2 separate regions of the Homo sapiens genome follow, and region 2 is linked to region 1. A link means that fine-mapping ties the variant in region 1 to the expression of a gene that starts in the linked region. Tissue or cell type: lung. Region 1 holds a variant in brackets; the other region holds the start of a gene. All regions are shown on one strand. Distances are between the middles of the regions.

Region 1 (2,678 bases):
GCAGCCCTCAGAAGGGAACTGGGCGGCAGGTACCTGCATCACAGATGCTCCGTCCTTGGGCCCAGGATCTTCACCCCCAGTCATCTGTCTTGTGGAGTGTGTCGCTATGAAGAGGTCCCTGAGGCTGGGTCGTTCATAACGAAGAGGGTTCATTTGCTCACGGTTCTGCGGGCCGTACAGGAAATGTGACACCGGCCTCTGGGCCGCTTCTGGGGAGGCCGGGGAGGTTTACCCATCAAGGAAGGTGAAGAGGGAGCTGGTGTGTCACGGGTGAGAGGGAGCAAGAGGGAAGGTGCCGCACTCCTAAATGGCTCTCAGGTGAGCAACAGGCAGGACGGGGGACGGTGCCGCACTCCTAAATGGCTCTCAGGTGAGCAACAGGCAGGACGGGGGATGGTGCCGCACTCCTAAACAGCTCTCAGGTGAGCGAGAGTTAGCAAGGGGGAAGGTGCCGCAATCGTAAACAGCTCTCAGGTGAGCAAGAACTCAACTCACGTGTCACCAAGGGCATGGGCTAAGCCCTGCAGGCGGGATCTACCCCGTGAGCCAGCACCTCCCACCAGGCCTCACACCAACTCTGGGCGTCACATTTCCGCATGAGATTTGGAGGGACACATGTGTCCAAACATGTCACAGAGCACGTAGTCAGTGACGTTCACACATGAATATTCATCCCAGATTTACTCATGGTAATGAAACCCTCAACACGACAGCAGAGTTTGGGTGTGTTCCTAAGAGCGGGTGGTTTGCAGATGTTCACCTCATCCAAAAACATCCTCACAGACCTGCCCAGAATGATGTTTGACCAAACTTCTGGGGATCCTGCGGCCCAGTCGAGTTCACACAAAAAATTCACCAACACACTCGGCATTCCGGGGAAGCTGGGGACGCGTGAGGGGCCACCAGGTGGCTGCAGAGACAGTGTCTGAGCTGTGAGGTCTATTTTCAGCCCAAAGAGTCGGCTTCTGGGGAACAGCCCAAGATGCCCTTGGAGGAGAGGCTGGGACGAGTCCCCCAGTCCCTCTGCAGCCCCAACCCCCAACCCAGCCCTTGACAAGCCCCTCCCCTCCAGACACAGGGCAATGCCCCTCTCCGTCTCTCTGTCTCTCTCTCTCTCCCCTCCCTCTTTCTCTGTCCTCCGTGTGTCTGCCTGTCCTCTGAGTCCACCACTGGCCTCTTGCACGTGCCCTGCCCGTGGCTCCTGCCCTCACGTCTCTGCTCGCTCCCGTATCCCCCATGAGCTGGTTCTGGGAGGCCGCGGTCTGGCTTGTGGGGACCCATCCATTTCTCTCCTGGGGCCTGAGCTGGGGTTGGGGTTCTAGAGCAGCGCAGGCCAAGACCCCACGGTAATGGGAGACAGAGGTGGGTAGAGCGTGGCCTCCAAGACATGATTCTGAACAATGCAGACCCATGGCTGTAACAGATGCAGCCCATGTAGCCTGAGAGTAGGGTCACTGTACAACTACAGATGCCATCAACAAAACT[C/G]CGTGTAGCAACATCCTCCCACTCAGTCCTCGAGCAGCCCTGAAGGCACAGCCACCATTGCTCCCTGTCACAGATGGGAACACCAAGACAGCCACCATTGCTCCCTGTCACAGATGGGAACACTGAGGCGAGTCCTCGAGCAGCCCTGAAGGTGCAGCCACCATTGCTCCCTGTCACAGATGGGAACGCGGAGGTGCAGGGACATCGGTGGCTCCCCAGGGCCCGGCTGTGAGCAGCTCTGATGTGGCAGCCCCTTCTCCCCAGCATTGGGGTGCGGTCAAGCCCGCGGACTGGGCAACCGGGCTCTGCTTCCTCCGCGCTTGCCAAGAGCCTCAGAAGGAGGCCGTTCCTCATCTGTGCACACGAGGGCTGGACACAGACACACAGCACACTGCGCCCACGCCATGGCCAGCCTGAGGCAGACATCAGCAGCCGAATGCTGAGGGCCACACTGTTTCCCTCTGAGCCCTGGCAAGGCCTCAGAACCCTTCTCAACCCTTAGCCAAGGCCAAGTGGTCTGAGAGGCCCAGGAGCTTCACTCTGTGGTCCTCAGGGTGCCATTAACCCGACCCCAGGGCCAGCGGCACCTCCAGGCCTGGCCCCCCGGCCCCCGCCCCGGCCCCCGCCCTGGCTGGCTCCCAGCCCACGCTGCTCCACTGCAGGCCCGGCCAGCAGCATCTGTTGCCATGGTACCTGCTGGGGTAGCAAGGCCCCCCCACCCACAGTGGGACATCACCACAGCAGCCGGTGAGATTTAAATGCAGGCAGCGGATTAGATCTGAGCGTTGTGTGGATGTGGAATTTCCCGATGTTGACAACAGCCCCAGGGTTATAAAAGAGAATCCTGGTTTTTAGAAAAGATACGCTGATATGTTTAGGAGGAAGTGGGCATTGCACCTCCAGCATAGTCTTCAATGGTTCTGAAAATGTGTATAAATATGAATATTGTACCATATGTAGATAACAGGTGGCTGTAGATACAGATAGAGGTACAGACACCGAAGATGACACAGCAAATGGGGAAAATCCAGCCCGCTGGTGACTCTGGGTAGAGTCAGGGGGAGTTCCTGCTGTATGACAAGTAATCTTGCCACTTTCCTGTAAGGTCAAAATGATATCAAAACTAAAAGATGTGAAAACAATATTCAAAGCATAGAGTCTTGGGCCAGCCCCCCACCTTACCTCCTACAGAG
Region 2 (2,678 bases), 85 kb after region 1:
TCACAGATGGGGAGACTGAGGCCTGAGCCTCCCAGAGATACACGGTCACAGATGGGGAGACTGAGGCCCAGGCAGAGATACATGGTCACAGATGGGGAAACTGAGGCCCAGGCAGAGATACACGATCACAGATGGGGAGACTGAGGCCCAGGCAGAGATACACGATCACAGATGGGGAGACTGAGGCCTGAGCCTCCCAGAGATACACGGTCACAGATGGGGAAACTGAGGGCCAGGCAGAGATACACGGTCACAGATGGGGAGACTGAGGCCCAGGCAGAGATACACGGTCACAGATGGGGAAACTGAGGCCCAGGCAGAGATACACGGTCACAGATGGGGAAACTGAGGCCCAGGCAGAGATACACGGTCACAGATGGGGAAACTGAGGCCCAGGCAGAGATACACGATCACAGATGGGGAGACTGAGGCCTGAGCCTCCCAGAGATACACGGTCACAGACGCCATGTGTTGTGGCTTCTGCAGAATCTCGATGCCACAGGGATCAGGAGAGACCACAGAACCAGCCCGAGGACCTGGCTTGGGGCCTGACTCCAGCCGCTAATTGTGGGTGAGGAAACTGCGGCCCGTCCTGGGCCCTCACCGAGGCCAGCAGCTGATGTGGCTCCCAGCAGAGCCGCCTCCGCACACGCGCCCCTCGCCCTGCCCCACGTTGTCTAGGGCGCCCGTCCCTGAGGGCCACGCTGGAAATATTCCCTCCTCCCCGCGTCTCCCGCATGATCGCTGTGGCTTTGCCCACTGCTGTACCCACAGCCCCTGGAAGGGGACCCGGCTGGCAAAGCACGCAGCTTCCGTTGGACAGACACATACTCGGGGCTCACGGCAACCCCGTGTCCACACCCATCCTGCCGGAAGGAAAACTGAGGTCTGGGGAAGGGCAAGGACTTGCCTGAAACTCCTGCCTCCTGCTGGGCTCCCAGAACATTCCAGAAGCCCCAGAAGTATGGGGAGTGGAGCAGGAAAAGGTCCCACCCATCCCCCACGGCTGGCACGCACCGTTCTCCAGGGTGGCCGTCCCACAGGACTTCCTCAGGCCGGTCTCCGGAATCTGGCCCTCCGTCACTCGCCGGCCAAGGGGGGCTGTGGCCAGCCGTGGGGTGGAGTCGCAGCTGAGGGTCCCCATGGTGGGCAGGCGATGGCCCCCACAGCACCCACGGGGCCTGGTGCTACCTTCTGAGCCGCAGCAGCTCTGGCGGCCACAGGCCCAGGCACCGTCCCCACCTTCACGGCCTCACCACACCCTCCCACGACCACAGCCGCACAGACGGCCTCTTGTCCCGCAGCAGGGAGTCGTGGGGCCCTGGCCCAAGGCAGGCTGGTCGGCCGGACACTGGCCTGGAAGTGGGGCCGGGATCGAGTGTCGGCCAGGCGGCTGGATGGTCCAGGAAAGAGTCCGGTGTCAGCAGAGTGCGTCTCCCGGGAGCCGGCAGAGCTGGGCAGCTGGGGCCAGGGCCGGCCCCAGGGAACTAGACCTGCAAACATGACACCCACAGCCTTGCAGCAGGAGGGCCTGGCGGGGTCGTGGGTGGCGTGGCCCCGTTTCTACACCTGGGGAAACTGAGGCACAGCCCAAGGTCATACAGCAAGTACACAACTCTGGGAGTTTCAGCTCTGAGCCAAGAAGCATTCACTGCCTCATCCTGTCACTCATTCCTGCCAAAGCATGTACTGGGCACCTACTGTGTACCAGCCTCTGTTGGGGGTGGTGAGAACTGGACACGAACAGACGGAAAAGAAGGAGATGTTCTCAGGATGGGAGAGAGAAAGTCGTCAGTAAATGTGATAAGTGAACACAGTCTGGTGTATGAGGAGGCACTGAACGTGAGGGAAAACGCAGACAGGTTTGGGGCCCAGGGTAGCAGTGTGGGTGTGGGTGAGCCCCACGGAGAAGGTAAAACTGAACAGTCCCAAAGCAGGTGAGGAGGCAGCCGTGCAGAGGCCCTGGGGCAGCGGCGAGGACAGCGGGGAGGTGAGAGCCGTCCTCACTGCCTCCCAGATGCCTCCGAGATTTAAACCACAATGGATTTTGATACATTCAAGGCGACCACTGCGTGAGGCTCCAAGAAGAGGCTCAGAAAACTGCCAGATGAGATGCACGTTCCTGTCTCTTCCTTGTTTGTTTCTGTATTTTTTGGAGCCTTTTGCAGTGTAATTTTTTTTTTTTTTTGAGACAGAGTCTCACTCTGTCACCCAGCCTGGAGTGCGCTGGTGCGATCTCGGCTCACTGCAACCTCTGCCTCCCGGGTTTATGCGATTATCCTGCCTCAGCCTCCTGAGTAGCTGAGATTACAGGCACCCGCCACCACGCCTGACTAATTTTTATATTTTTTAGTAGAGATGGGGTTTCACCACGCCTGGCTAATTTTTTTTTTTTTTTTTTTTTTTTTTTTTTGAGACAGAGTCTTGCTCCCCCGCCCAGGCTGGAATGCAGTGGCGCGATCTCGGCTCACTGGAACCTCCGCCTCCAGGGTTCAAGAAATTCTCCTGCCTCAGCCTCTCGAGTAGCTGGGATTACAGGCATGCACCACCACGTCTAGCTAATTTTTTTGTATTTTTAGTAGCTAATTACAGGCACACTCCACCATGTCCAGCTAATTTTTTTGTATTTTTAGTAGAGACGGGGTTTCACCACGTTGGCCAGGATGGCCTCAATCTCT

Evidence for each region. PIP is the estimated chance that this variant, and not a neighbour inherited with it, causes the effect.
Region 2: CIMAP1D starts here. The variant in region 1 is fine-mapped to the expression of CIMAP1D in lung (GTEx, PIP above 0.99).

What each region holds. Positions count from the first base shown.
Region 1 is chr19:388,856-391,533 of GRCh38, forward strand. No RefSeq gene overlaps it. Among named protein-coding and RNA genes, the nearest start is that of SPMAP2, 14 kb to the left of the region's middle. RefSeq lists enhancers at 27-592, 593-1,157. The variant C/G (reference allele first, on the strand shown) is at 1,486.
Region 2 is chr19:473,604-476,281 of GRCh38, forward strand. It overlaps CIMAP1D (CIMAP1 family member D), which reads right to left and starts at 1,380. Exons shown (of 4, transcript NM_182577.3): 1 at 1,018-1,380. The coding sequence starts at 1,144.